Linked DNA regions of Homo sapiens: region 2 is linked to region 1. The links come from fine-mapping of genetic effects on plasma protein levels. A gene starts in region 1. The other region holds a variant in brackets. All regions are shown on one strand. Distances are between the middles of the regions. Region 1 holds the start of ADAMTSL5 (ADAMTS like 5). Region 2 overlaps PLK5 (polo like kinase 5 (inactive)).

Region 1 (15,573 bases):
TCCCTCTTTCAGGCTGCCAGCCCCAGCAGTCCCAGGGAGCAGTGCCAGGCAAGGCCCTCGTGCTGAGGCGGGTGTCTGAGCTTCCTAGGGGGAAAGAAATCAGAGTTCCTGGCCCAGAGCCTCGCAGCCCGCCTGTCAGCTGATGCTCCTTGCACAGAGACCGGCTCGCCCTCCCTCTCCCCTGGCCGCCCGCGGCTTTTCCTGGCTGAGACTCCACTATGGAGCTGGGAAAGGCCTCCTAGTCCCAGCCTGTGCCCCTCTGAGCAGGGACTCTGTCCCCCAGCCTATGTGAGCCCTCCTAACCAGCTGTCCCCATCCCCCGCCCTGCCCCAGGCTGGCTGCTCACCACAGCCTTGCCCCAGGGGAGTTTTGGGGGGCTAAGGATGAATGCCCCCAAAGACACCCCTCAGCTCTCCCTGAAGGCCTCTTACACAGATTAGGGGATGGGGAGGGACTGCTGTTGGGTACAAGTCTCCTTTTGAGGATGAACTGTTTTAGAATTAGATAGAGGGGGTGCTTGTTCAACACTGTGAGGGCAGTAAATGCTGCTGAATTGTGCATTTTAAAAAGGGTAAATTTTATGTTATGTGAATTTCACCTCAAAGGTTAAAAAAAAAAAAAAAAAAAAAGAATTGGCCGAGCCCTGTGGCTCACACCTGTAGTCCTAGCACTTTGGGAGGTCAAGGCAAGAGGATCACTTGAGGTCAGAAGTTCGAGACCAGCCTGGCCAACATGGCGAAGCCCTGTCTCTACTAAAAATACAAAAATTAATCGGGCGTGGTGGCTCACACCTGTAATCTCAGCACTTTGGGAGGCCGAGGCGGGCAGATCATGAGGTCAAGAGATCGAGAGCATCCTGGCTAACATGGTGAAACCCCGTCTCTACTAAAAATACAAAAAATTAGCCGGGTGTGGTGGCGGGTGCCTGTAGTCCCAGCTACTCGGGAGGCTGAGGCAGGAGAATGGTGTGAACCTGGGAGGCGGAGCTTGCAGTGAGCCGAGATCGCGCCACTGCACTCCAGCCTGGGCGACAGAGCGAGACTCTGTCAAAAAAAAAAAAAAGGGAAAAATATATTAGATTCCCTACCCCCTAAAACACATAGTCCTACTAATGCCCCAGTTTACAGATGGGGAAACTGAGGCACGGCTTGTGTGATGAGCACAGGATGCCGTTTTGCAAAGGGGCAGGGCAGGGTTCAATGGGGCCACCTGGCCCTCCCATCCTACCCCCTGCCCTGGGTTCTTGAGGCCTGGGTGGTCTAGCACTGCAGCCCCTGTACCCCCAGCACCTCTCACATCCCAGACCACAGGCTCGATTTCCTCTCCAGTCTCTGTTCTTTTGCTGACCTGAGAAAACCACAGACTCAGCGGATTTTGCGGAGAAGTGCCGGGAAGCTTTGCTCAAAATACCTACTGCAGGTGGAGGCGTGGCAGCTGAGACAGCAGGCACCCGACTCCCTGGAGGCCCAGGAGGCTCATGGGGCTGCCTCCGAGGTCAGCGGCGGCCCAGGCCTCCCCAGCACCCTCCTTCCGGCAGGCGCCAGGGTGGAGGCCACCAACCAATGTGACTCAGCCCAGCTCCCTGGTCCCTGCCTGGTCTCCTGGCCTTTACCAAGCACCCGTGGGTCTCACGTGCCTGGACGCCTGACCACGCAGGTGCCCAGGGACCCATGGCCCTGGGAGCAGAGCAGGCAGGAGACGTACCACCACCACAGGGCTCCAGAGACCCCCACTGATTGTGGTTTATGCTGCACGACATGGCCCAGTGTGAGCGCAGGAGGGGGCGTCCAGACTTGGTGCCCCGAAACCAAGCCCTGTTCTTCCCTCTCTCAACTCTGTTTCCTCCTAAAAGCACTGTTGTCCAGATGCAGGGCTCATGCCTGTAATCCCAGCTACTCTACTCGAAAGGCTGAGGCAGGAGGATCCCTTGAGTCCAGGAGTTTGAGACTAGCCTGGGCAACACAGCGAGATCCCCTTCTCTACAAAAAATAAACAGTTAGCCGGGTGGAGTGGTGCACGCCTGTGGTCTCAGCTACTTGGGAGGCTGAGGTGGGAGGATTGCTTGAGCCCAGGAGGTTGAGGCTGCAGTGAGCTGTGATGGCACCACTGCACTCCAGCCTGGGTGACAGAGCAGGACCCTGTCTCAAAAACAATAATAATAATAATTAATAATAAAAGTGGCCGGGCGTGGTGGCTCAGGTTTGTAATCCCAGCACTTTGGGAGGCCACGGCGGGTGGAGCACGAGGTAAGGAGATCGAGACCATCCTGGCTAACACTGTGAAACCCCGTCTCTACTAAAAACACAAAAAATTAGCCGGGTGTGGTGGCGGGCGGCTGTAGTCCCAGCTACTCGGGAGGCTGAGGCAGGAGAATGGCGTGAACCCGGGAGGCGGAGCTTGCAGTGAGCCGAGATTGTGCCACTGCACTCCAGCCTGGGAGACAGAGCGAGACTCTCTCTCAAAAAAAAAATTAAAAAAAAAAATAATAATAATAAAAGCACCGTCCTCTCTTGTCCTCTGGGACACCCCTGCTCCTGATGTTTTCCCATCTTTTTTTTTTTTTTTTTTCAGATGGAGTTTTGCTCTTGTTGCCCAGGCTGGAGTGCAATGGCGCAATCTCGGCTCAGCACAACCTGTGCTTCCCGGGTTCAAATGATTTTCCTGCCTCAGCCTTCTGAGTAGCTGGGATTACAGTCATGCACCACCACATCCAGCTAATTTTGTGTTTTTAGTAGAGACCGGATTTCTCCATGTTGGTCAGGCTGGTCTCGACCTCTCAACCTCAGGTAATCCACCCACCTCAGCCTCCCAAAGTGCTGGGATTACAGGTGTGAGCCACCGCGCCTGGCCCCTTCCCATCTTTCTGGATGCATTTTTCCAGTTCTCCTTTAAGCCACCTCCTCCTTCTCCTGGGAGCCTGGGGTTCAGTGTTGGGGCCTCTCACCCACTCTCTTCACTTCCTCCACTGACATTGTCCAGGTGGGTGGCTTTAGCACTGGCAGCTGGGGCAGGTTACTCAACCCTCCTGGCCCATCTGTGTGGGTTCCCCCAAAGGCAGAGCCTGAAGCAAGGCTTTAGTGCAGAGAGTTGGTTCAGGGAGCAGGGTGGGAGCTGGGTACCCCCGGGGCACCCTGAGTCCCACACTCATCAGGCACCCTCTGAGGAACTGAATACAACATTCCCCAGAGTTGACCACCCAAGATGAGGACACAAGGCCAAGACATCAACCTTCTGGCCTTCCCATTTGTCCTCAGACGCACACCAAGCTCACCCTGCCACAGGGCCTTTGCATGTGCTGTTCCCTCTGCCACCCTCCCAGACTTTGCCTGGCATCCTCTTCTTAGCTTTTAGGCCCAGGCAGGAAAGGGCCACCTGTGCCCAGGAGGCCGCCCCTGCCCCAAGATGCCCTAGACGTGATCCATGCCTGCTTCTCCCCAGTTCCACCACAACCCAGAATGATGGTTTCCTTGCTAGCTTGCTGGTGTCTGTCCCACCTGACAGGGAGCGCCAGTGGCAGGGAGAGGGTCTGTATCTCCATTAGGTGCTGGGTGGACACTCAACCCCGTGCCCCTTCTCTCCATGGACGCAGCATCGACTTCCCATCAGGGATACTCATCAACTCCAGCCGTGTTCAAGGTGCTGCATGGGCATCAGAACCCACCCGATTACCACAGAAATAATCCATTTTTAATCTGCATGGGTCTTTTTACTAATTATGAGACAAATAGTTCAATGTCTTATGGAATCCAGGAACAGAAAAAGGACATTTGTTTAAAAAAAAAAAAAAAAGGCTGGGTGCAGTGGCTCGCGCCTGTAATCCCAGCACTTTGGGAGGCCGAGGTGGGTGGATCATGATGTCAGGAGATCGAGACCATCCTGGCTAACACAGTGAAACCCTGTCTCTACTGAAAATACAAAAATTTAGCCAGGCGTGGTGGCACACACCTGTAATCCCAGCTACTTGGGAGGCTGAGTCAGGAGAATGGCGTGAACCCAGGAGGCAGAGCTTGCAGTGAGCCGAGATCACGCCACTGCACTCTAGCCTGGGAGACAGAGCAAGACTCCATCTGAAAAAAAAAAAAAAAACAAAAAAACAAGCCTGGTGAAATCCAAATCCAAATAAAATAACATTTGGAATTTAGTCAATAATCATGAAATAGTAATTGTTATCACCTTTTTTTTTTTTGAGACGGAGTTTCGTTCCTGAAACCTTGTCTCTATAATAATAAAAATTTTTTAAAAATTCTAAAATAAGGTTGGGAACAGTGGCTCATACCTGTAATCCCAGCATTTTGGGAGGCCAAGGTGGGAGGATCACTTGAACTCAGGAGTTTGAGACCAGCCTGGGCAACGTGGCAAAACTCCACCTCTACTAAAAATACAAAAATTAGCTGGGTATAATGGCACTCACCTGTAGTCCGAGCTACTTGGGAGGCTGATCCCAGAGGATTGCCTGAGCCTGGGAAGCAGAGGTTGCAGTTAGCCAAGATCGCACCACTGCAGTACAGCCTGGATGACAGAGCGAGACCCTGGCAAAAAAAAAAAAAAAAAGTAAGAAACTAAAAATTGCTAAAGTGAAAAAAAATGGATGAATGCCTTCAGATGAGGCTCAATCCAGGAACTCAAACAACCTTCTCAGAAATCTAGACTTTTGGGCTGGGCACGGTGGGTGGCACATGCCTGCAATCTCAGCAGTGTGGGAGGCTGAGGCAAGAGAATCACTTGAGTTCAGGAGTTCGAGACCAGCCTGGGCAACAGGGGGAGACCCCCAACTCTACAAAAAATATAAAAATTAGCCAGGCATGGTGATGCATGTCTGTAGTCCCAGCTACTTGGAAGGCTGAGGTAGGAGCATCTCTTGAGCCCAGGAGTTTGAGACCAGCCTGGGTCGGGACAACATAGCAAGATCCTGTCACTACTAAAGATCAAAAAAATTAGCCAGATGTGATGGCATGCATCTGTAGTCCCAGCTACATGGGAGGCTGAGGTGGGAGGATCGCTTGAGCCCAGGAGGTCAAGGCTGCAGTGAGCTGTGATTGCACCACTGCACCCCAGCCTGAGCGACAGAGCAAGACCCTGTCTCAAAAAAAAGTAAAAAAAGAAAGAAAAGGACAGAAAGATAAAAAGAAAAAAAAGAAATCTGGCCCCTTCCATTTGCTGCCGTCTGTCAGCATCTGCTTGAGACAGTGCATCTCTTCGAGCAGTCAAGAAAGTCCAGCCTACCTCAACTCACGCCATCCCTGGAGCCCACCCCAGCCACGGGAAACCACCTTTTCCTCTAATGGCCCAGTTCAAGTCCCAGGGCAGGCTCTCATTGGCCCACTTGGGTCACATGGTCATCCCCCAGCCAATCCCCGTCTCTAGGAGATGGAATTATCTGTTTGGCCAAGCATGGGTTACGTCATACACAATGGAGGAGGTGGGCCAGTCCACCTGATCCACGTCGCCTGAAAGTGACAGAACAGGTGGTTTTCAGCACGTGAAGGTGGAGGGGAAGGGGCACCCTGGGGAGGCCATGTCACAGGCCTGGAGCCTGGGCAGTGGGGTAAGAAAGCAAGAGGTCTCTTCCAGGAATTCTGGACGGTGCCCGGGGCACTGGGTGCCTGCAGGGAACAGATTCCGAGCGTGCACAAGAAACCGGCACAGAATGAGGACCGGGCGAGCAGCGGCCAAGGAGGGTCCAGGGCCCTGAGTCCCATGGGGTGACTCCAGCCGGGGAGGGTCCCAACTCTGCGTGGCCCCTGCTGGTGCCCAGGAACAGACGGACAGCCCCAGGGACCGGGGGGTCCAGGGGTCTGTGGGGCAGGGATGGGGAGGCCCCACCCAGTCCACGCAGGAGGTTGAGGTATCCTGGGACCACCGTGTCCTAGGTTTTGCATTTTTAGTAGAGACGGGGTTTCACCTTGCTGGTCAGGCTGCTCTCGAACTCCTGACCTCAGGTGATCCACTGGCCTTGGATCCCCAAAGTGCTGGGATTACAGGCGTGAGCCACCGTGCCCAGCCCAGTGTCTGCAATTTGATGAGTTTGCACATATGCAGTCACCACACTCAAGATGACAGGCCTACCTGTCACTTCCCGAGGTCCCTTGTGTCCCACTGTTTTTGTTCTTTTATGGTAAGAACCCTTACCATGAAATCTACCCTGTGAACACAGTTTGAAGTGTGGGGTACCATACTGTTCACTGTAGCCCAGTCACACAGCAGATCGCGGCATTCCTTAAGCCTCAAGGCCATACAACCATGAAGGAAATGGAACCTAATTGATCCACATCCGCCGGGACCCGCGTCTCAGTCTCCCCTCTAGCCCTGACGCTGCCTCAAGGAGGGGGTCCAGGCTGAAATTCAGAGTAGGGGGACTCGGCTGATTCCTGGGTCAGGGTCCAGGCAAGGGCAGGGGAATGTAGTAAGCTGGGACCCCGCCCAACTGGGACCCCAGGAGCCTCTGAGCCTCAGCAGCCACCCCCTCCACCTACACCGGGTGTCTTAGGCTGAGCTCCCAGCCTCCTCCTAGGGACATCCAGAGGACAGAGGTGGGAGACGGTAGGGGACAAGAACTGGGGGTGGGGGGCAGCCCTCCACATCTTCACCACCACCTCTGCCAATCTTGCCAGCTCTAGAGCCCCCACGCAGGGTGCAGTGGCTGCGGTATGCACTCCCAGGAGGGAACAGGGGCTGCGGGGTACACTTTCCATAGAACTCAGTGCCTACTGTATGCGCTCCCTGCAGGAGACAGCGCCTTATGTATACCTTCCTTGCAGGATGCAGCACCTGCTGTATACCTTCCTTGCAGGATGCAGCACCTGCTGTATATACTCTCTACAGGATGCAGTGACTGCTGTATGCACTCCTCTGAAGGTGCCATATCTACTGTATACACTCCTTTGCAGGGCAGAGTCTACTCTATGCATTTCTACAAGATGCAGCACCTGCTGTATACCCTTCCTGCAGAGCATAATGCCTGCTGTGTGTGCTCCCTGTGGGCGCTGTGCTTTCTGTATACCTTCCCTGCGGGGCACAGGGCCTGCTGTCTGCACTCCCAGTGGAGCTCTGTGGACTGGACATCTGGGAATGGGGCACATCTGAGGAGGATACAATTGTCCTAATGACACATTGACACATGTCCTGAGCTGACTTCTTTCTTTCTTTCTTTCCTTTTTTTTTTTTTTTTTTTTTTTTGAGACGGAGTCTCGCCTGTCTCCCAGGCTGGAGTGCAGTGGCGTGATCTCGGCTCACTGCCACCTCTGCCTCCCGGGTTTAAGCGATTCTCGTGCCTCAGTCTTCCGAGTAGCTGGGATTACAGGCACTCACCGCCATGCCTGGCTAAGTTTTATATTTTTAGTAGATACTGGGTTTCACCATGTTGTCCAAGCTGGCTTCAAACTCCTGACCTCAGGTGATCCGCCTGCCTCGGCCTCCCACAGTGCTGGGATTCCAGGCATGAGGCGCCGCGCCCGGCCTGCCCTTCTCTCTTGACCCCTTCAGTGAGGGCCTTCTTGACATCCCCGCAACCACCACCCCCCAACCTGGGGCCATCAGTGGTGGGCCTGGGCTATTTTCTCCAATAGTCCAGGTCAGAAGGTGGGGGGTCATACATTCCAGGGGGCTGCCTTACCCGCTGGCCTGGGACTGGCTGGGTTGTTCACAGCTGTGCACACAGTAGGTGCTCAATAAATGGCATATGGGTGGCTCTGCTGACATGCTACAGGCTGGAGGGCAGACTGAGTTGGACCAGCAACACCCTGTATGTCCCCAGCAAACCTCTCTCCCTGTGGTCAGCGCTGTGGGACAGCAGGGTGGGCTTCCTGGAGGAGGGGGTGCTCAGACCGAGCCTGGGTGGAGCCCAGGGAGCAGGACAGTCCCTCCACCCCCTCCTTTAGTGCCCCAGTCCCTCAGCCCGCCCGCCAGGGGGCGCCGTGGGGCGACACCAGAAACTGGTGGAGCCCAGAACCCAGGGCCTGGTCTCATCCCTGCGTGGGTGGGCACGGGGCGGCTCACAGACGCCCGGCGGGAAAGGGTGGGGTGGGGGGAGTCCCGGGGTGCCCCCTCGCGTTGCCGGTCCGCGCAGAGCCGGATTCCAGATGGAAGGTTCGCGGTGGAGATCCCTGCCGGGCCCACTGCTGGGATGGGGAAACTGAGGCCGGAGAGGGTGTGGCCGCGGCTGTGAGGGAGAGGGACCGCCTGGACCCGGGTCTGGCTCTGAAGCCCCGCTGGCAGCCCCGGGGCCCGGCAGGGAGGGCGGGAGGCGGGGTGGGGCGCGTCCCCTGGTGACAGCAGCGCCCGGGAATGCGCCAGCTGGGAGGGTCTCTCCGCCCCCCGCGCGCGGCCCACGGGGCCGAGCCTCTCCCCAGTGCGCTGGGGCCCTGCGCTGGGGGTGACCGGGACCTGGGTCGGGGAACCCCCGGATGGGAGCCCAGGCGCGCCAGGGTCCCCATCCACGAGCAGGTCGACCCCCCGCGAGAGGGGTGAGGGGCAGGACCAGGGGAGGGGGCTGTGACCGGGGATGGGGACGCCGGTGGGACGCAATCCGGGCGTCGGCGGGGTAGGGGCAGCGCCCGGGACTCCCAGACCCAGGGCGGGGTGACCTCGGTTCGCGCACATTCCCGGGCCCTGAGCGCGGCGCCCGGAATAGCAGCCCCGGGGCAGAGGAGGGCGGTCAGTCCCCGCGCCGCGCCCCCGCCCGAGCCTGCCAAGGTCACCCGGACCCGGGCGCCCGACACCAGCCTGCGGCTCCGGGACCCCTGCGCTCGCGTCCGCCGGGCAGTCCCCTGCCGCAGATCCGCGCCCGCCGCGCGAGGGCGCCCGGGGCCGCCGCCCCTCCTGACCCGGGCCTGGGCGCGCCTGCGGAGGCCGCGGTGGGAGGGACCGTCCCAGGCTCCCCACCCCGCCCAGCACCTTGGGCCCCGCCGCTTCCGCTCGCCCTGGGGCCGCTCAGGGAGCCGGGACGCGCTGCCTGGGCTCCGCGCAGCCGGTAAGTCCATCTGCCTATCCTCCCACTTTCTCCGGGGGAAACTGAGGCCCAGAGGTGCGGCTTGCCTTGAGATCCCTCCGCCAGTCCGGGCTGCAGCCCACACGGGGAGGGGAGAGCCTTGATTCTGGGCAGGGCCCATTGAGGAGGGGGTAGGGTGGTCCTTGTAGCCCCCCACTTTTCACCACCTAGACCCCCACTCCTCAAACCAGGCTTAGAGTCCGGTGGGGGTGGTCAGAAGGTCAAGCCCCCTCCCCCTGTTTTTTTTGGTTGGTTGGTTGTTTTTGAGACTGAGTCTCACTATGTCGCCCAGGCTGGAGTGCATTGGCCCCATCTCGGCTCACTGCAACCTCCGCCTCCTGGGTTCAAGCGATTCTCCTGCCTTAGCCTCCCAAGTAGCTGGGATTACAGGTGTGCACCACCACACCGGGCTAATTTTTGTGTTTTAGTACAGATGGGGTTTTACCATGTTGGTCAGGCTGGTCCCAAACTTCTGACCTCAGGTGATCCGCCTGTCTTGGCCTCCCAAAGTGCTGGGATTACAGGCGTGAGCCACCGCACCTGGCCCCCCTCCCCTTGTTTTAAGTTTCTGGTGCAGACTTCTTCCTGCTTCCTGGGCCAGCCCAGGCTCTAGGCTCAGAGAGGGGCACGGATGCAGCAGACCACACAGCTGTCTCAGTACCTAGAGATACCCAGGACCCTAGACCCTTGGTGCCTCAGAAGTCCAAATGCTGGAGCCAGGGAAACAGGGTCCAGGTGGGACCCAGCCTCTTCCCCAGCTGGTGCCCGGGCCGGGGCTCACCCACCTGCCTTCAGGCTCTGCTGGCAGCAGGACGCCCTGGCTCACTTGGCGGCTGCTTCCCTTCCCCCCTCTTTCCCCCTGCAGGCTGGGGTCATGAGGAGGGTGTGGATGGCAAGTGACTTCATCCCTGCCCTGACAGGATGGAGAAACTAAGGCCCAGAGAGGCAGTCAGCCTCCTCCCCTTCCCTGCTCCAGCCTCAGCAGTGGCCCCTTCCCTCCACGGGCTGCCCCGGAGCTCAGTCCCACCCCCTCCGCCGATGAGGCCATGAGGCACCGAACGGACCTGGGCCAGGTCACCCCCTCCCTGTCCCATCCCCAATCCGGGGGACTCCCTGCTGTCTGGGAGCTGAGGGAGCCCTGGGGCCGGGGTGCAGCTGAGGGCCTCTTCTAGGGACCCAACTCCTGATCCAGCCCCTGCCGGCCGCACCTTCCGCAGGGTGTCACAGAATCATGGACTGAGTCCACTTGGCCCCCACTGCACAGATGGGGAAACTGAGGCCTGGGAGAGTGGAGTGGCTGGCCTCAGGCCACACGGAAAGGTAGAAGCAGTGATGGTGGGGAGGGCGGGGAGGGGGCCCCAGCCCTAGGAGGCACCTGTGTACTATTTTTGAATGATCCCTCCAATCATCAAGCATCGATTAAGCACCTACTGTCTGCATTATAGCACAATACACATATCAATAATATTGTAGGCTGGGTGCAGTGGCTCATGCCTATAATCCTAGCACTTTGGGAGGCCAAAGCAGGTGGATCACTTCAGGTCAGAAGGTTGAGACCAACCTGGCCAAGATGGTGAAACCCTGTCTCCACTAAAACGGCAAAAATTAGTCCGGCGTGGTGGCAGGCACCTGTAATCCTAGCTTCTCGGGATGCTGAGGCAGGAGAATTACTTGAACCGGGGAGGGTTGCAGTGAGCCGAGATCGCACCCCTGCACTCCAGCCTGGGCGACAGAGCGAGACTCCGTCTCAAAAACAAACTAACTAACAACAATAATAATTGCAGATGACATTCTGAGTTCTTCCTCTCCATACCGGGCTCCACGTCTCCTGTCTTCTTTACCTGATCCACAGGACCCCTCAACTTTCCTGTAAGGGAGGCTCTATTACCCCGTTTTTCAGAGACGAGAGGTAGGGCTCAGAGAGGTTTAGTTACTTTCCAAGATCACACAGCCAGTCAGGGCAGAGCCGGGACACAACCCTGTGTCTCTGGCGGTGGCTCTATGGACTCGGCCCCTCTGTTCCCCAGGCCCCACCTCTTCCAGAACCTCCTGCTCTTCCTGTGGGCCCTGCTGAACTGTGGTTTGGGGGTCAGTGCTCAGGTAAGGGGGGGCATGAGCCCAGGGGGTGGCGAGTGGGAATGGGGACCCAGTCAGCAGTGTGGGGTCACCAGCGTCCCCCTACAAGGCTGACCGTGCCTCTGTCTCCCCAAGTAGGGTCCGGGCGAGTGGACCCCGTGGGTGTCCTGGACCCGCTGCTCCAGCTCCTGCGGGCGTGGCGTCTCTGTGCGCAGCCGGCGCTGCCTCCGGTGAGCGGGGCCCGGAGGGGGTCCCTGCCCCTCCTCCCCCGCCGGCCCAGCCCGGCCCCTGGCCGCACCCTCGGCCTGCCCACACATGCTGTGCCCTTTAATCCCCCTGATCCCGCTGGAATGCGGGTGGGGTTGGCGGGGGCGGAGGGTGGAAGGCCAGCCCTGGGAGGGGGTCCCTGGGGGTTCTCGCCACACTCTGTCTCCCTTCAGGCTTCCTGGGGAAGAACCGTGCTGGGGAGACTCCCATGAGTACCGCCTCTGCCAGTTGCCAGTAAGCCCTGCCCACCTCCCAGACCACTCTCCCACCCCAGACTGCCTGAAGCCCACCACCTGCCCCTTGGGGTTGTCCCAGCCTCTGGCTCACCTATCTCTGTCCCTAGGACTGCCCCCCAGGGGCTGTGCCCTTCCGAGACCTACAGTGTGCCCTGTACAATGGCCGCCCTGTCCTGGGCACCCAGAAGACCTACCAGTGGGTGCCCTTCCATGGGGGTGAGTAGTCTGGTCTCCTGTGGTCAGAATTGGTCCAGAGCGAACAACTCATTAGTCTCAGGGAGAGGGTCTTGGAGGGTTGCAAAGAGAAGAGGGTATTAGTGCTAGGGCTTTGAAGGATATGTAGGAGTTAGTGAAACAGAAACAGCATATGTTAGGCGTGAAACAGGGGCAGAGGGAAGCAGGGTTCATTCTGCACAGGGCTGAACACCCAACTAAGGATTGACTTAGAGCTGTATCCAGAGGCCAACACTTCTCAAACTTATCCCAGTAGCAGGAAATGTTGCTGCATTGAGCTGAAAATAGCGAGTTATATAACTACGTGCCCGGGTCAGTGCGCCTCCAGATTTCAGGGAGACAGGCAGCTTCACACGCCATGGGGAAGGCAGACACAGATATAAGAAAAGCCTAGAATGGACAAAGTGCCATCCATCAACCTCATTTCCTTCCTTCCTTCCCTTTCTTCCTTCCCTTCCTTCCCTTTCTCCCTTCCCTTCCTTCCTCCCTCCCTCCCTCCCTCCCTCCCTTCCTTCCTTCCATCAATCTGAGAATTGGAGGAAACCTGCTGTGATCCCACCCCCGCAGAGGCCCACTAGGGCCAGCCCAGGATCCGTTCCAGGCAGGGTCCACCAGCCAGGCTCAGGGAAATGGGAGCCAGAAGGAGCTGGAGAAGGAGGAGTGGAGATCAGGGCTGTCGGCCTTTGTGTTTGATCAGACAGCTCATTTTGCCCCACTTCCAGGCAGAAGGGGAAACTGAGGCCCAGGGAGGACCAGCGACACAGCTCAGTTGTGCGGGACTCAGTCCAGTCAGTACTGGACAAACACTTCATTGGGTACTTGCTGGTGCCTGGGCCAGATGCTCAGATCTTCTTTTTTTTTTTTTTTTTTTTTTTTTGAGATGGAGTCTCGCTCTGTCACCCAGGCTGGAGTGCAGTGGCATGATCTTGGCTCACTACAGCCTCCACCTCCCTGGTTCAAGCGATTCTCCTGCCTCAGCCTCCGGAGTAGCTGGGATTACAGGCTCCCACCACCAAGCCTGGCTAAATTTTTATTGTTGTATTTTTGGTAGAGACGGGGGGGTCTCGCCATGTTGCCCAGGCTGGTCTTGAACTCCTGGCCTCAGGAGATCTGCCCACCTCAGCCTCCCAATGTGCTGGGATTACAGGCATGAGACACCACACCTGGCCTTTTTTAAGGCCATCCATCTGCACACTGATTGAATTCTTGCTTCTGTATCCTAGAGCTTGGAACAGTGTCTGGAAAACAGTAGGTGTTCAGTGGAATGAAGAATGAGTAATGGTGTTAAAAATGAATAATATGTAAGGACTCCTAATATAAAGACAATGAATGAATGAATGAATGAATGAATGCAGCCCCAGGATACTTGCCTGCGAGTCCCAGGTTGCTGGACGCAGAGCACCTACGGTCCAGTCCTGGCTCTGCCTCAGCCTCGATGTGTGGCTTTGGCCAAATCTCTGGGCTTCATCTGCCCAAAGTGATGGTTGCCTGATGAAGCTTGGTAGAGGGGGACTGGAGCTCGAACAGGGGTCCCCGGCCCACCGACTCCTCCTGCCCTCAGCGCCCAACCAGTGCGACCTCAACTGCCTGGCTGAGGGGCACGCCTTCTACCACAGCTTCGGCCGCGTCCTGGACGGCACCGCCTGCAGCCCGGGTGCCCAGGGGGTCTGCGTGGCTGGCCGCTGCCTTGTAAGGACTCGTCAGGCCCCGCCCGAGCCCCGCCCACCTCCCACTCAGGCCCCACCCATCCTAGGCTCCACCTCCGCCCTCCTCCCATTAGCCTCCACCCCCTCCCTAGGCTCCACCGCCTTCCCCCTCCCCTTCCAGGCCCTGCCCCCAGCCCCCCTTAGGCACCCACTCCCGGGCGCCAAGCCCATCCTCCTCCCGCCAGGTCCTGCTCCTCCCTAGGCTCCACCCCCATCTTCCCTCCAGGCCTCGTCCTCTTGCTCCCAGGCACTGCCCTTTCCCCAGGTCCTGCCCCTCCCAGCGTCAGTGACGCCGCGCCTGTCCTTCACCCTTTAGAGCGCCGGCTGTGATGGGTTGTTGGGCTCGGGTGCCCTCGAGGACCGCTGTGGCCGCTGCGGAGGCGCCAACGACTCGTGCCTTTTCGTGCAGCGCGTGTTTCGTGACGCCGGTGACTACCTGCCCCGCCCTCCCTGCACACACGTCAGAGTGGGCCCTTTAACGAGCCGTGGCCCGGAAGCAAATTTCCGTGCTGATTGGCCAGTGTGCGGCCCAGCCCCCCTTTCTCCTCATCCTGATTGGCTACTGACAGATTGTCCCGCCCTTCCCCAGGACAGATGGGGTTTTAACCCTTTCCCTGCCACACTGAAGCAATAGTAATTGTAACTCCAAACGTTTACGGAGGGTTTTCCGGTTCCCAGGACCCTGGCTAGCTGTCTTACCCGCAGTAGCTCATTAAATCCTCAAGTCATCGCTCAAATACACCCCCACTGGCACCCCAACACCCTCCTACCCTCCCACCCAGGTGCCTTCGCTGGGTACTGGAACGTGACCCTGATCCCCGAGGGCGCCAGACACATCCGCGTGGAACACAGGAGCCGCAACCACCTGGGTATCCTAGGATGTGAGGCGAGAGGCACCCGGCTGGGCACCCGGGGGCGGTTGTCCCTGTTTACAGATGGGGAGACTGAGGCCTGAGGAGGGGACCCCAGGGTCTGGGAGACGAGACGACAGGTTCCTGAGGGCTGACTGTTCCCTTGCAGCACTGATGGGGGGCGATGGGCGCTACGTGCTTAATGGGCACTGGGTGGTCAGCCCACCAGGGACCTACGAGGCGGCCGGCACGCATGTGGTCTACACCCGAGACACAGGGCCCCAGGAGACATTGCAAGCAGCCGGGCCCACCTCCCATGACCTGCTCCTACAGGTGCCACTGGGCCTCCAACAGGGTCAGAGGGGGTCGGCTGGGGACAGAGGGGAGAGGCTGGGGACAGAGGGTAGGAGTGGAGGTGACTGGGGCCAGAAGGGGGAGTCTGGGGTCAGAGGGGAGAGGCTGGGACAGAGCATCAGAGGGGGGAGGGTGGGGACAGGGTCAGAGGGGATCAGCTAGGGACAGAGCATCAGAGGAGGGAGGCTGGGGGCAGACAGGATCAAAGTGGGGAGGCTGGGGTCGTAGGGTCAGAGGCAGGAGGCAACCCCAGCCTCCTGTGAAGCTCCCTGTGTCCCCTCCCCTGCTCCAGGTCCTCCTGCAGGAGCCCAACCCTGGCATCGAGTTTGAGTTCTGGCTCCCTCGGGAGCGCTACAGCCCCTTCCAGGCTCGTGTGCAGGCCCTGGGCTGGCCCCTGAGGCAGCCTCAGCCCCGGGGGGTGGAGCCTCAGCCCCCCGCAGCCCCTGCTGTCACCCCTGCACAGACCCCAACGCTGGCCCCAGGTGAGGTGGGGACAGCCAGGGTGGGGGATGAGTGGGGACTGAGGCCTGTGCCCCTCACAGCACCGCCCATCCCACAGACCCCTGCCCACCCTGCCCTGACACCCGCGGCCGCGCCCACCGACTACTCCACTATTGCGGCAGTGACTTTGGTGAGACCCCCGACCTCTACCCTGACTTAGCCCCTACTAACCTGGCCTCCTCCTGACCTCTGACCCTAATCTGACTTTACCCTTGACCCCTTCTTCTGATCCTAATTTGCCTCTTGACCCTAATCCCTCATTGATCCCTGACGTGATCCTGACTCTAGTCCCTATAGATCCCGAGGTCCCACCTGACCCTCAGTCCCTCTTCTGGCAAGGGAGGGGGCGTAGAGATTTGCGC
Region 2 (15,573 bases), 23 kb before region 1:
GAGTCCAAGGCAGGTGAATCACGAGGTCAGGAGTTCGACAGCAGCCTGGCCAACATAGTGGAACCCCATCTCTACTAAAAATACAAAAATTAGTCGGGCGTGGTGGTGGGCGCCTGTAATCCCAGCTACTCCGGAGGCTGAGGCAGGAGAATCGCTTGAACCCCAGAGGCTGCAGTGAGCTGAGATCACAAAATTGCACTCCAGCCTGGGGTGCATTAAGGACACTCCATCTCTAAAAAACATATAAGTAAGATTTCACATGGATACAATCCATCAATCTTACTCAGGATTCCTCAGTTTAACTTGTGATCGTGTGTGTGAGTGTGTGAGATGTCTTTAGTCTCCTATAATTTGCTGGCCTGGGTAGATTCGTGTATCCACCATCATGACATGGAGCATTTCCATCACCATCAGGATCTCTTGCTGTTTGTGCACCCTCCCCGCACCCTCATCCCTAACCCTAATTCCATTTCTAAAATGTTACATAAACTTTTTTTGTTCTTTACACAGGGTCTTGCTCTGTTGCCCAGGCTGGACTCCAGTGGTGCAACTACAGCTCACTGCAACCTACATGAACTCCTGGGTTCAAGGCATCCTCCTGCCTCAGTCGCCCAAGCAGCTAGGACTACAGGTGTGCATCATCATCCTTGGCTTATTTATTTATTTATTTATTTATTTATTTTGAGACGTAGTCTTGCTCTGTCGCCCAGGCTGGGGTGCGGTGGCGCCATCTCGGCTCACTGCAAGCTCCGTCTCCCCGGGTTCACGCCATTCTCCTGCCTCAGCCTCCCGAGTAGCTGGGACGACAGGCACCCGCCACCACGCCCGGCTAATTTTTTGTATTTTTAGTAGAGACAGGGTTTCACCGTGTTAGCCAGGATGGTCTCGATCTCCTGACCTCCTGATCCGCCCGCCTCGGCCTCCCAAAGTGCTGGGATTATAGGCGTGAGCCACCGCGCCTGGCCTTAATTTTCTAATTTTTTATAGAGATGGGGTCTCACTATGTTCCCCAGGGTGGTCTGGAACTCCTGGGCTCAGGTGATCCTCCCACCTCAGCCAACTGAGTAGCTGGGACCACAGGCACACCCCACTATGCCCGGCTAATTTTTTTTTTTTTTTTTTTTTCCCGAGACGGAGTCTCACTCTGTCACCCAGGCTGGAGTGCAGTGGCGTGATCTAGGCTCACTGCAACCTCCGCCTCCGTGGTGAAAGTGATTCTCCTCCCTCAGCTCCCCGAGTAGCTGGGACTACAGGCGCCCGCCACCACGCCCGGCTAATTTTTGTATTTTTAGTAGAGATGGGGTTTCACCATGTTGGCCAGGCTGGTCTCGATCTCTTGACCTTGTGACCCGGCTGCCTCGACCTCCTTAAGTGCGGGGATTACAGGCGTGGGCCACCGCGCCCGGCCGGGACAGGCTTTTTTCACTCAGCGTAATTCTCTGGAGTCATCAGGAGTTTGAAAACTCCCCGTGGGACCCAGGTTGACCTACCTACCAGCACCCCATTTTTTCATAGATTGAGAACCAGCGCCTCAGTGTCCCCATCTGTATAGTGGGAGAGAAAAGGTCCCTGCTCCCGGGGCCTTGCCAAGGTGCAAGGAAGCTTTATGACGTCACACACAGTTACCACGGGCAACAGCCAATCCTGCTGGCCCCAGAGGTAGCCGCCCTTGGTCCCGCCCACGCCTTGCTTGCTTGCTGGTGATTGGAGGACGCATGATGTCACGTGCTCCCATAGACCAATGAGGAGGTGGTCTGGAGGCTGGGTTCAGCTGTAGCCTCAGCGTGGGAAAAAGGGTAAAACGGAACTTTGGGGCCGGGCGCTGGGGCTCACGCCTGTAATACCAGCACTTTGGGAGGCCGAGGCGGGTGGATCCCCTGAGGTCGGGAGTTCGAGACCAGCCTGGCCAACATGGTGAAACCCCGTCTCTACTAAAAGTAGAAAATTTATCCGGGCATGATGACGCCTGTAGTACCAGCTACTTGGGATCCTGAGGCACGAGAAAAATCTCCTGAACCAGGGAGTCGGAAGCTGCAGTGAGCCGAGAGCACGCCACTGCACTCCAGCCTGAGTGACAAGAGCGAGACTTTGTCTTAAAAAATAAAACTGAGCTTTGGAAATTCTTGCCAGGACAAGTTTTCCCTCTCTCAGGGTTAAATCAGTGGTTTCCAAAAAGAAAAAGAAGGAGAAGGAAGGAGGAGGAGAAAGAGGAAGAGAAGGGAGTAGGGAGAAGAAGGAAGAAGAAGGGAAGAAAGAAAAAAAAATCTTTGAGCCAGGGCTGGAGTGAATTCATGACCATTTCTTGAAGTTCCAACCCTTGTAAGCACCCAAAAAAGTGAGGCTATTAATTTTATTTCTGGCAGCACACAGTTCACCCGTCTAAGGAAGATTCCAGAAACTTTAGCACGAGGGCGGTGTGGGTGCTTTGCCATCTCTGGAAGTTCTTATACCTAGAAATAAGAATTGGCCCGGGAGGTTAGAAAATTAATATATTCTGTGGTTGGTTTATTTTTAATAAACCACCATTGTGGGCTCGGGGCGTGGGAGACGGCACAGATTGTTGCTGTTCTTGACGCCCACAAGCAGATGGAAATAAATACTCTAGGTAGGTCATTTTGCAAGACACCCAGTTAAACACTCTGAAGATGTTTTGTCTTTTTCTCCCTGGAAACAAATGTTCCGGGCAGAAATGAAGCTGTTTCTTGCATGTTTTGGGTTGTGTATTAGTTAGCTATTGCCGGGTCACAAGTTACCTTCACATTTGGTGTCTGGGCCAGGTACGGTGGCTCACAGTAATCCCAGTGCTTTGGGAGGCTGAGACGGGGGAGTTGCTTGAGACCAGGAGTTTGAGTCCAGCCTAGGTGACGGAGCGACACTCCTTCTCTCTATAAAAAAAGAGAAGAGGCCGAGCGCGGTGGCTCACACCTGTAATCCCAGCGCTTTGAGGGGCAGAGTCGGGCAGATCACCTGAGGTGAGGAGTTCGAGACCAGCCTGGCCAACATGGTGAAACCCCGTCTCTACTAAAAATACAAAAATTAGCCAGGCATGGTGGTGCATGCCTGTAATCCCAGCTACTCGGGAGGCAGGAGAATCGCTTGCACCCGGGAGGCAGAGGTTGCAGTCAGCTGAGATTGCACCACTGTACTCCAGCCTGGGCGACAGAGAGAAACTGTCTCAAAAAAAAAAAAAAGAAGAAGAAGAAAGAGAAGAAGGAGAAGAAGAAGAAGAACAACAACAACAACTTGGTGTCTTGCAATAACAACAAACTTTTTTTTTTTTTTTTTTTGAGATGGAGACTCGCTCTGTCGCCCAGGCTGGAGTGCAATGGCGTGATCTCCAATCACTCAATCACTGCAAGCTCCACCTCCCGGGTTCACGCCATTCTCCTGCCTCAGCCTCCCGAGTAGCTGGGACTACATGTGTGTATCACCACAGGTGGCTAATTTTTGTATTTTTAGTAGAGACGGGGTTTCACCATGTTGGCCAGGCTGGTCTCAAACTCCTGACTTCAGGTGAGCAGCCCATTTCAGCCTCCCAAAGTGCTGGGAATGCAGGCGTGAGCCACCACGCCCGGCCGGCTCATTTTGTTTTTAAAGGCAGTGATGCACTTGCTCTGTGTTTTCTCTGCTTGCTTTTGTTCCTCTCTCACCCACACTCCATTCCTTTGGGGTCCCTGGGGGCATCTCCAAATTCTCCCCACTGATCCCTCCTCCTAGGTCTGGCCACACCAAGGCACACGACCTCCCCTGACCCGTCCCCCTGCTTCCTCCCCCCACCCCAGCCCAGCGTGCCTGCAGCCCTCTCTACTCCCAACATGGGCCCCAGTGTCTGTTTTGGTCGTATTTTCTCTCCCATCCACAAACGCTGGCTTTGCTTCATCCCCCGTTCCATAAAAAGCACAGAGTTGGCTCTATCTCCACAGACGCAGCAACACACACAGGCACACGGCCGAGAGGCGACGCGGGGATGCCGCCATGGGTCAGTTATTCTCTCCAGGAAAGTAAGCATAGGAAACAGATGGGAAAAAAAGAGGAGACCCTGTCACTTCCCAGAAACAGAGGGGGCCCAGGGACAGGTGGTGGTGGACCCTGGGACTTGAGTTTGATTTGTTAAGGTTGCAATTTTGTGACAAAGAAACGGCATCCAGACCAAGCGCAGTGGCTCCCGCCTGTAATCCCAGCATTTTGGGAGGCCTAGGCGGGTGGATTGCCTCAGGTCAGGAGTTCAAGACCAGCCTGGGCAACATGGTAAAACCCCGTCTCTACTAAAAATACAAAAATTAGCCAAGTGTGGTGGCACACGCCTGTAGTCCCAGCTACTCAGGAGGCCGAGGCAGGAGAATTGCTTGAACCCAGGAGGCGGAGGCTGCAGTGAGCTGAGATCCGGCCACTGCACTCCGGCCTGGGCGAGAGAGTGAGACTCCATCTCAAAAAAAAAAATAAATAAATAAAAATAAAAGAAATGGGCCAGGCGCGGTGGCTCATGCCTGTTATCCCAGCACTTTGGGAGCCTGAGGTGGGCAGATTGCCCGAGGTCAGGAGTTCAAGGCCAGCCTGGCCAACATGGTGAAATCCCGTCTCTACTGAAAATGCAAAAATTATCTGGGCATGGTGGCACATGCCTGTAGTCCCAGCTATTCAGGAGGCTGAGGCAGGAGAGTTGCTTGAACCCCGGAGGCAGAGCTTTCAGTGAATTGAGATCACACCACTGCACTCCAGCCTGGGCGACAGAGTGAGACTCTGTCTCAAAAAAAAAAAAAAAAAAAAAGAAAGAAAGAAAGAAAGAAAGAAAAAGAAAGGAGGCCAGGTGCAGTGGCTCACGCCTGTAATCCCAGCACTTTGGGAGGCCAAGGCGGGAGGCTCACAGGTCAGGAGTTCGAGACCAGCCTGACCAATATGGTGAAACCTCATCTCTACTAAAAATACAAAAGTTAGCCGGGTGTGGTGGCGCATGCCTGTAATCCCAGCTACTTGGGAGGCTGAGTCAGGAGAATCGCTTGAACCCGGGAGGCACAGGGGGCAGTGAGTCAAGATGGCATCGCTGCACTCCAGCCTGGGCTACAGAGTGAGACCCTGTCTCAAAAAAAAAAAAAAGAAAAGAAAAAAAAGAAAAGTCTGCATTTTACTTTCAGAATTGATAGACTATGGTTCCAAAGGGAAAGGGCTGTGAGGAGGGCCCCTGGGAAGCTTCAGACCTGGGTGGCCTCGGACTCATCACGCCCCCATTTGAGTGGTGGAGCGCTCTGCCTGCAGATGGGTGGCCCCAGGACACGTTGTGCTTGGCAGGAGGCCATCCCCACCTCAACCCCTCTCTCGCCCCGTGCATCACTGACCTTGACGAGGGGCCACTACGGGGACATTGCTCCCCGCTGCGTGTGAGGTGCAGCGTGGGCTTGGGAATGTGCAACGTCTCCCGGGAGTGCCGTTTCTCCACTTCATTCCTTTTTTTTTTTTTTTTTTTTTCCCTGATTACAGAGGAAATCCGCTTTAGGAATTAAACACTAAGCCTGTAAATATTTCAGTTCCTATGTCCAAGCTAGGGTCTCTCCTCTTGGGCACTATGGATGTTGGGGCCAAGCCATTCTCTGGGGTGGGGCTGTCCTGGGCATTGCAGGGTGCTGAGCGGCGTCCCTGCCCTTCACCCACTCCATGCCAGGAGCACTCCCTGTCATTATGACCACAGATGTCCCGAGACATAGCCCAGTGTCCCCTGGGGACAGAATCACCCCCCCCCCCACCATTGAGAACAACTACTATTCTTTCTTTTTTTTTTTTTTTTTGTTTGAGACGGAGTGTCTCTCTGTCGCCAGGCTAGAGTGCAGTGGTGTAATCTTGGCTCACTGCAACCTCTGACTCCCCGGTTCAAGTGATTCTCCTGCCTCAGCCTCCCGAGTAGCTGGGATTACAGGCATACACCACCACGCCTGGCTAATTTTTGTATTTTTAGTAGAGCCGGGGTTTCACCATGTTGGCCAGGATGGTCTTGAACGCCTGACCTCGTGATCCGCCCACGCTGGCCTCCCAAAGTGCTGGCATTACAGGCATGAGCCACAGCGCCCGGCCGAGAACTACTACTATTCTAGAGGCTAAGGTGGCCAGGCGTGGTGGCTCACGCCTGTAATCCCAGCACTTTGGGAGGCCAAGGCGGACGGATCAGGTCAGGAGATCCAGACCATCCTGGCTAACACGGTGAAACCCCGTCTCTATTAAGAATACAAAAAATTAGCCGGGCACGGTGGCGTGCGCCTGTAGTCCCAGCTATTCGGGAGGCTGAGGCAGAAGAATGGCGTGAACCCAGGAGGCGGAGCTTGCAGTGAGCCGAGATCATGCCACTGCACTCCAGATGTCAATGATGCCCTTTTGTGCGCACCTCCAGGAATGTCTCTCTTTTTTCTTCTTTTTTAGACGAAGTCTCACTCTTGTCGCCCAGGCTGGAGTGCAGTGGCGCCTTCTGCAAACTCTCTCTCCTGGGTTCAAGCGATTCTCTTGCCTCAGCCTCCCAAGTAGCTGGGATTACAGCCACTCACCACCACGCCCAGCTAATTTTTGTATTTTTAGTAGAGACAGGGTTTCACCATGTTGGCCAGGCTGGTCTCGAACTCCTGACCTCAGGTGATCTGTCTATTGGTGGCATTACAGGCGTGAGCCACGGCACCCAGCCAATTTTTTATTTTTATTTTTTGAGAAAGGGTCTTGCTCTATCACCCAGAGTAGTGGTGGAGTACCGTGGTGCAATCATAGCTCACTGTACCTCCGAACTCCTGGGCTCAAGCAATCCTCCCACCTGGGCCTCCTGAGTAGCTGGGACCACGGGCATGTGCCACCAGGCCTGGCTTTTAAATTTTTAGTAGAGACAGAGTCTTCCTATGTTGCCCAAGCAGGTCTCAGACTCCTGTCCTCAAGTGATCCGCCTGCCTCAATTTCCCAGCCTGCTGGAATTACAGGCATGAGCCACTTCTCCCTCTTTTATGATGAGTTTCTGGGGTTGATAACCGGAACTTGGAAGTAGAACTTCATGCAGAATCATGCTGCTGGCAGGGATTCCAGAGAATACATGCCCCCCTTAAACAGGCAGGGAAACTGAGGCCTGGATGTGCCTGGAAGTGGCCAGCTGGGACTGGAGCCCCGGTCTCCTGATCCCGCATCGGTCGAGGTGGAGTTTTCTCCAGCATAGGATACACCTCTGAGCACCTTAGCAGACGCCCAAAGCACAGCCCAGGAGCCTCGCACTGAGAATTGTGGCCTCAAGTGCTAATGAGGGGGCCAGGCACAGTGGCTCATGCCTGTAATCCCAGCCCTTTGGGAAGCTGAGGTGGGAGGATCACCTGAGGTCAGGAGTTCAAGAGCAGCCTGACCAACATGGTGAAACCCTGTCTCTAGGCTGGGCACGGTGGCTCACGCCTGTAATCCCAGCACTTTGGGAGGCCGAGGCAGGCGGATCACGAGGTCAGGAGATCGAGACCATCCTGGCTAACATGGTGAAACCCCGTCTCTACTAAAAAATAAAAAAAAAAATTAGCCGGGCTTGGTGGCGGGCGCCTGTAGTCCCAGCTACTCGGGAGGCTGAGGCGGGAGAATGGCGTGAACCCGGGAGGCGGAGGTTGCAGTGAGTCGAGATCGTGCCACTGCACTCCAGCCTGGGCGACAGAGTGAGACTCCGTCTCAAACAAACAAACAAATGAAACCCTGTCTCTATTAAAAATACAAAAATTAGCCGGACGTGGTGGCACATGCCTGTAATCCCAGCTACTCAGGAGGCTGAGGCAGAGGAATCTATTGAACCCGTGAGGCGGAGGTTGCAGTGAGCTGAGATCGCACCACTGCACTCCAGCCTGGGCGACAGAGCAAGACTCTGTCTCAAAAAAAACAAAAGAGCTACTGAGGGGCCTGGAGTCCTTCTGCGATTGACGGGTTTTTCCGTCATCAGCTCTGCACCCCTCGGCCTGCCTTAATGCCTCCCGTGAGCCTTCCCACTTTCCCAGCCTCACTCATCCCAGGGGATGGCCAGATGTTTGAGTCTCGCACCGCTGGACACTTAGGTTGCGTCCAGTTTTTTTTTTTTTTTTTTTTTTTGAGAGGGATTTTCGCTCTGTTGCCCAGGCTGGAGTGCAATGGTGCAATCTCGGCTCACTGCAACCTCTGCCTCCTGGGTTCAAGTGATTCTCCTGCCTCAGCCTCCTGAGTAACTGGGACTACAGGCCCCCTACCACCACACCCAGCTAATTTTTGTATTTTTAGTAGAGACGGAGTTTCACCATATTGGCCAGGCTGGTCTCGAACTCCTGAGCTCAAGTGATCTGCCTGCCTTGGCCTCCCGAAGTGCTGGGATTACAGGTGTGAGCCACCACGCCTGGCCTTTTATGACATTTTGATCTAACAACCAATGCTCCATCAGCCCAGAGAGGTCAGGTCCATGAGTGCACCGTCCACCCCAGGGCAGCACAGGTGACGGTTGTGCCAACTGTGTCCCGGAGCATAGCCAGCCATCTTTCCAGCCTCAGTGTCGGCTTCTTTCCTGTCCACCCATTAAGCAACTGTCCCATGTTTTAGATTTGGAGTTATGGCAGAACCCCACTTCTGGTACTACTTTTGTTGTTGTTGAGACAGGGTCTTTGTTCTGTCGCCCAGGCTGGAGTGCAGTGGTGCAATCACAGCTCACTGCAGCCTCAACCTCCCATGCTCACGCCATCCTCCCATCTCAGCCTCCCAAGTAGCTGGGACTACAGGCACGTGCCACCATGCCCAGCTAATTTTTTGTAGAGATGGGGTCTTGCCATGTTGCCCAGGCTGGTCTCAAACTCCTGGGCCCAAGCGATCCTCCTGCCTTGGCCTCCCAAAGTGCTGGGATTCCAGGCATGAGCCACTACACTGGCCTCTGGTGCTAATGTCTGCATTAGTGAAAATGTAACCCACCTCTGCCACTAAGAGAAACAGGGAGGATGCAACGTCACGTGGGGTCAACGTTTCTTTGCCAAAGCTCCTCAAACGCTTTCCCCCAAAGAGAGGCAGACCATGGCCTACAGCATTTCAAATTGTCTTTAATGAAAAAGGAAGAGATCCCAGCAAAGTCTGGGTTGAACAGTCATGCCACAAGGCAAGAACCCACCTCCCGTGTGCCCCCCAGC[C/T]CTCCCCCAGGACAGCCCCTCTGGGGGAGCCACAGGAATGGAAATGGAGCCTGGGTCCCTGGCACTACCATGCAGGGGTCCACTCTGACCCTCAGGGGCACTAGATACTCTGCAGCATGCGGAGGGCGTGGTGAAGGTGCTGTCCGGTGGTGGGGGCGCAGCCGTGGCTCCGCGGGACGTCCAGGGAGTAGGAGGTGCCAGGGGACCCCTGCTCCCAGAGGGTGAGCTGCAAACCCTCACCCTCGCCACTCAGCACCAGTTGGGCCGGGACTCCACTGAAGCTCACCTGCAAAGGGTAAGATACCAGTCAAGGGGAGACGGGTACCCCTGCACCTGCCTCCAGCCGTGGCGCTCCAGAAGGACAAGTGGACACTGGACCCAGAGCCCCCAGTCTGGCCCCTAGTGCCTGCCCCAGCCACAGGAACTCGGGGTCGGGAGGCCAAGTGCTCCACTGTACACCTGGGGAAACTGAGGCTCAGATGGGGGCTCCCCTGCCCACAGTCTTCCAGCAAGACCCTGACTTTTTTTTTTTTTTAAACAGAGTCCTGCTCTGTCACCCAGGCTGGAGTGCAGTGGCGCGATCTCGGCTCACTGCAAGCTCCGCCTCCCGGGTTCACGCCATTCTCCTGCCTCAGCCTCCCCAGTAGCTGGGACTACAGGCGCCCGCCACCACGCCCGGCTAATTTTTTTTTTTTTTTTTTGTATTTTTAGTAGAGACGGGGTTTCACCGTGTTAGGCAGGATGGTCTCTATCTCCTGACCTCGTGATCTGCCCACCTCGGCCTCCCAAAGTGCTGGGATTACAGGCGTGAGCCACCGTGCCCGGCCTTTTTTTTTTTTTTTTTGAGACGAAGTCTTGCTCTGTCGCCCAGGCTGGAGTGCTGTGGCGTGATCTCGGCTCACTGCAACCTCCGCCTGCCAGGTTCAAGCGATTCTCCTGCCTCAGCCTCCTGAGTAGCTGGGATTACAGGAAGGCTCCACCACGCCCAGCTAATTTTTGTATTTTTAGTAGAGATGGGGTTTCACCGTGTTGGTCAGGTTGGTCTCAAACTCTTCACCTTGCGATCTGCCCGCCTCGGCCTCCCAAAGCACTGGGATTAGAGGTGTGGACCACAGTGCCTGGCCCAAAAACGTCATGCATTTTCCATGCTGTGGTTTTGTACGCAGGAGCCAATACCTTTTTTTTTTTTTTTTTTCCTGGGAGGCAAATGCTTCCTAAGGCTCCCCCAAAGCTTGCTCCGTAACAGCCCAGGCAGGCCAGACCCCACCCTGCCGAGCCCCAGTGCCCCGAGTTTGAGCCCCGGGCTCACCTGCACCATCCCATTGCTGAACAGCAGCAGCAGGGCGTGCTCAGAGGCCAGGAAGCGCAGGAGGCAGAGGCCGGGTCCAGCAGGTGGCACAGGTGTGGGGAGGGTCCCCTCCTGTGGACAGACTCGGCTGAGGTCACGTGACGCAGGGGGCGTCCCCACCCCTCGCCCCCACACCCAGCACCCCAGCTCTCACCTCCCGCAGCCGCCGCCGCAGGCAGCCGGCAAAGAGCTGCAGCACGGCCAGCTTGGCGCCCAGCAGGCCGGGCACATCCCTCAGGGCGAAGGCTTCCAGCCTCCCGCAGTTGGGCATGTAGCACACTTGGCTGGGGCCAGGACACAGGGCCTCTGTCCTGGACAGCCCAGGCCAGTGGACACCCTTCCATTGACCTACACCCCCTGGAATGGTGGCTTTAAAGAGCAGCTCTGCCCTAGTTACACCTTATCCATATGCCCAGTGCGGCTCTCTGTCCTCTCTTCACCTCAGCTGACAGCTGGTCCACCCTTCCTGCCTTCCAACTCTATCCACACTGCAGCCCCTCTCATCCCTCCCCGGTCACCAGCACAGCCCAGGCCTCCGCCACTGCCCACCTGATGAGTCCAGCCACCTCCCCACTGGCCCCCATGTCACTCCCGCTAGAAAGATTGTGTTAAGGCCGGGCGCGGTGGCTCACACCTATAATCCCAGCACTTTGGGAGGTCCAGGTGGGAGGATCACCTGAGGTCGGGAGTTCGAGACCAGCCTGGCCAACATGGAGAAACCCCGTCTCTACTAAAATTCAAAATTAGCCAGGCGTGGTGGCGGGTGCCTGTAATCCCAGCTACCCCGATCCCGGGATGGGGAGGTTGCGCTGAGCCGAGATTGCACTCCAGCCTGGGCAACAAGAGCACAACTCCGTCTCAAAAAAAAGAGACAGAGTCTCGTTCTGTCACCCAGGCTGGAGCGCAGTGGTGCAATCATGGCTCACTGGAGCCTTGACCTCCTGGGACCAAGTGATCCTCCCACCTCAGCCATCCAAGTAGCTGGGACCTACTGATGCATACCCTTGCAGTTGGCTAATTTAAAAAAAAAAAAACTTGGCCAGGCGCGGTGGCTCACGCCTGTAATCCCAGCACTTTGGGAGGCCGAGGCGGGCAGATCACGAGGTCAGGAGATCGAGACCATCCTGGCTAACACAGTGAAACCCCGTCTCTACTAAAAATACAAAAAATTAGCCAGGAGTGGCTGAGCGCGGTGGCTCATGCCTATAATCCCAGCACTTTGGGAGGCTGAGGCGGGTGGATCACCTGAGGTCAGGAGTTCGAGACCCGCCTGGCCAACATGGAGAAACCCCGTCTCTAATAAAAATACAAAATTAGCCAGGAGTGGTGGCGGGCACCTGTAATCCCAGCTACTTAGGAGGCTGAGGCAGGAGAATGGTGTGAACCCGGGAGGTGGAGCTTGCAGTGAGCCGAGATTGCGCCACTGCACTCCAGCCTGGGTGACAGAGTGAGACTCCATCTCAAAAAAAAAAAAAAAAAAAGAAGAAAATTTTGTAGAGAAAGGTCTTGCTGTGTGGCCCAGGCTGATCTCAAACTGCTGGGCTCAAGTGATTCTCCCACCTCAGCCTCCCACAGTGCCAGGATTACCGGTGTGCACCACCACGCCCAGCTAATTTTTAATTTTTTTGTGGAGATGGGGTCTTGCTATGAGGCCAAGGCTGATCTCAAACTGCTGGGTTCAAGCGAGTCCGCACCTCAGCCTCCAACGTGCCAGGATTATAGGTGTGTGCCACCACACCAAGCTAATTATTAAAATTTTTGTAGGGATGGGGTCTTGCTATGTTGTCCAGGCTGATCTCGATCTCCTGGGCTCAAGGAATCCTGCCTTGGCCTCCCAAAGCACAGGGCTGCCGCTTGTCATTCACGTCACTTTCTCAGAGACCCCTTCCCCTTCCCCCTACCCACACTACTGAGATTCACCTCCCCTCCTAATCTGCCTCTTCACTGGGTTCATTTACTACAGAAACGCACTTGCTGATTCGTTTAGTGTTGTTCTCCCCGACCAGGCAGGGAGCACCTGTAGGTGTGCACAGTAGGTGCTTAATAAATACTTGAGAGATGAATGAAAAAAGGCAGGGGGAGTGCCTGGTCCCCCAGGGCACAGGAGGCCACAACTTACCCTCCGGGGGGTCGCAGGGCCATGTGGGTGCCGTCCCGTGCGCCCCCCGTCCAAGAGCTGGTAGCCAAAGCCGTATTTGCTGGAATAATCCACCCATTTGGGGGCCCAGAGGATGGGCTGCTGCTCTCCCAGGGGGTCCTGTGTGGCTGGGCACAAACAAAGGTATGCTGAGCCAGGGGTCAGGGGTCAGGCATATAGTAGGCACTCAATAAATGTGATGGACTGAAACCATGGGTGAGACCCTTCCCACGGCGGGGACCGGACAGAGGCTTGGGGGCTTCGGTGGTGGATTCTAGGAGACCAGACATCAACAGAAGCCACGGAACCGTAACTAATTTCTGGCTTGCAGAGGGAGACTGTGGGATACTGGCGCACCCCTGGGAATGAGCAATTCTCAAATACTTGCAATGCTCTGAAAATACTACACATTTCTGGGTGTGTGTGTTTTTGTTTGTTTTGTTTTGTTTTGTTTTTTTGAGACAGAGTCTTGCTCTGTCCCCAGGCTGGAGTGCAGTGGCGCAATCTCGGCTCACTGCAACCTCCGCCTCCTGGGTTCAAGCGATTCTCCTCCCTCAGCCTCCTGAGTAGCTGGGATCACAGGCACGTGCCACCACACCCAGCTAATTTTTGTGTTATTAGTAGAGATGGGGTTTCACCATGTTGGCCAGGATGGTTTCGATCTCCTGACCTTGTGATCCACCTGCTTCAGCCTCCCAAAGTGCTGGGATGACAGGCATGAGCCACCACGCCCTGCCCCGTTTCTGGGTTTTTGCTTGTTTGTCTGTTGGCTTTTCAGACAGGGTCTCGCTCTGTTGCCCAGGCTGAAGTGCAGTGGCACGATCTCAGCTCACTGCAGCCTCCACCTCCGAGCTCAAGTGATCCTCCTTCCTCAGCCTCCTGAGTATCTGGGACAACATGCATGCACCACCATGCCCGGCTCATTTTTTTGTAGAGATGGGGTCCTGAGGCTGGGCGCGGTGGCTTATACCTGTAATCCTAGCACTTTGGGAGGCCGAGACAGGCGGATCACGAGGTCAGGAGATCGAGACCATCCTGGCTAACACAGTGAAACCCCGTCTCTACTATAAATACAAAAATTAGCCGGGCATGGTGGCGGGTGCCTGTAGTCCCAGCTGCTGGGGAGGCTGAGGCAGGAGAATGGCGTGAACCCGGGAGGCAGAGCTTGCAGTGAGCCGAGATCACGCCACAGCACTCCAGCCTGGGCGACAGAGTGAGACTCCGTCTCAAAAAAAAAAAAAAAAAAAAAAAAAAAAAAAAATGCGCCCAGGCGTGGTGGCTGACGACGTCTGTAATCCCAGCACTTTGGGAGGCTGAGGCGGCCAGATCACCGGAGGTCAGGAGTTCGAGACCAGCCTGGCCAACATGGTGAAACCCTGTCTCTACTAAAAGAATACAGAAATTAGCAGGTGTGGTGGCACACGCCTGTAATCTCAGCTACTCGGGAGGCTAAGGCAGGAGAATCGCTTTGAACCCAGGAGGTGGAGGTTGTGATGAGCCAAGATGGCACCATTGCACTCCAGCCTAGGCAACAGAGTGAGATTCCGTCTCTTAAAAAAAAAGAAAGAAAAGGAAAAGAAAAGGCTTCTGGGCTGGAGACCTGGCGTGGGGTTTGGGGCTCCCTCTCTAAGGGTGGCAGTATGTGTGGGTCAGTGGAGGCTCAGGGAGAGGAGGGGAGAGGAAGAGGGTTTGGGTTCTGGGACACTGGGGATAAGAGGGGTCCCCCTTTGGAGTGTGGCCTGTGGGCACAGGGCTCTGTGTCCAACGTCCCAGGTCACGTTTCCTCACTCACTGGGTCTCTAACGAGCCCGGGTCATGAATTTAAGAGACCGTGAAACGTAAGGCTGCCGCAGAGCCCTCCGTGCCAGGCTCTGCACACAGGAGGGCTAACCCACTCTCCTGATGTCACCGTGTCCTGGGGCCTCCCTCACCCCTACTCCTCACCCCCAGAAATACCCAGGAGGGCCCAGGATGGGAATGAAGGCAATTTTACTTGGCTAGTAAGAGTAAAGGTGATCCTGGGGGCTGGGCCGGCTCCTACCCGGGGGGCCTACATCCAGGCACAGCTGCAGGTGTCTGAGGGCCGCCTCCACCTCTGGCCGCCGGCTCCCCTCGGGCCCTGGGAAGACAGGTCTTTGTGCCGCAGACAGGTCTGGGTTCCCACCACCAGGCTCTTCCAACCAGTCCCCCTCCCCACGGCTCCATCCAGGAACATCTCATCCTCAACCCAGAGGCGGCATTCCCATTTGACAGGCGGGAAAGGTGAGGCCGGGACGGCGGCTGTGACCCTGGTAAGCCACGGCCTTGGTCCCCCTGTCACTTGTAATTCCTCCCTCCCCACCTGCAGCCCCGGGCTGGGACGGGGATCTGCTCACCGGCCAGGTCACTCTGCAGGGTCCCTTGTGCGACCAGGTGGATGGGGCCTTCCAGGCAGGGAACCTCTTTCGCAGACAGGGAGCTCTGAGGTGGGAGCAGCAGGGGTGGGGGTGGCCCCGGCCCCAGCCCCAGGGACAGGCGTGAGGTGGGTGGCAGGCTCTGGCCCCTGCCTGTGCCCTCCGTGCTCTGCACACAGAGGCACTGCTTTCCCCTTGGGAGGCAGCCTCGGAGTGTCTCGGAGGCATACAGTAGGTGCTCAATAAATGTGATGGACTGAAGCCATGGATGGGACCCTTCCCATGGCCTCGAGCCCGGCCCTTGGGAAAGCCCAGGTGGGCACATTTGGACACAAATGGATCCCAGCTCTGATGCGTCAGGACGGGACTAGGGGGAGGGGGCCGGGCTTGGAGACCCCAGAAGGGGTTCAGAGAAGCCGGCATGGGGGAGGGGGTTTTAGCAGGGGCCAGCATGCCCTCCACCTGTGTCTCCCCGTGTCCCCCACCCCGATGTCTCACCTCGCCGTCCCACTCCATGGAGTCAGGGTCTGGCCCACCTTCTCCTGGACCCGAGGCCTCTTTAGGCGTGAA

The links. A credible set is the group of variants that fine-mapping cannot tell apart. PIP is the posterior inclusion probability: the model's chance that the variant is causal. Protein levels are from antibody-based Olink assays in UK Biobank. Linkage for the fine-mapping came from a reference panel and not from the study's own genotypes, which makes the PIPs less certain.
Region 2: its variant is the best candidate, but not a certain one, in a credible set for the plasma level of the ADAMTSL5 protein (UK Biobank, PIP 0.53).

Annotation. Positions count from the first base shown.
Region 1 is chr19:1,506,358-1,521,930 of GRCh38, reverse strand. ADAMTSL5 (ADAMTS like 5) reads left to right here and starts at 8,912. Exons shown (of 12, transcript NM_213604.3): 1 at 8,912-8,968; 2 at 10,771-11,086; 3 at 11,201-11,292; 4 at 11,503-11,563; 5 at 11,673-11,781; 6 at 13,361-13,488; 7 at 13,822-13,933; 8 at 14,288-14,374; 9 at 14,526-14,689; 10 at 15,003-15,192; 11 at 15,270-15,341. The coding sequence starts at 10,988. It overlaps LOC107985337 (a long non-coding RNA gene), which reads right to left and starts at 4,529. Exons shown (of 3, transcript XR_001753835.2): 1 at 4,412-4,529; 2 at 3,495-3,639; 3 at 1-84. LOC124904609 (a long non-coding RNA gene) reads right to left here and starts at 13,939. Exons shown (of 2, transcript XR_007067084.1): 1 at 13,815-13,939; 2 at 12,817-13,267. RefSeq lists silencers at 7,799-7,878, 8,718-9,087, 13,814-14,013 and an enhancer at 13,338-14,187.
Region 2 is chr19:1,528,903-1,544,475 of GRCh38, reverse strand. PLK5 (polo like kinase 5 (inactive)) reads right to left here. Exons shown (of 14, transcript NM_001243079.2): 9 at 15,502-15,573; 10 at 14,986-15,070; 11 at 14,652-14,729; 12 at 12,593-12,738; 13 at 10,435-10,545; 14 at 8,430-9,411. The coding sequence ends at 9,226. Among named protein-coding and RNA genes, the nearest start is that of PLK5, 13 kb to the right of the region's middle. The variant C/T (reference allele first, on the strand shown) is at 9,126.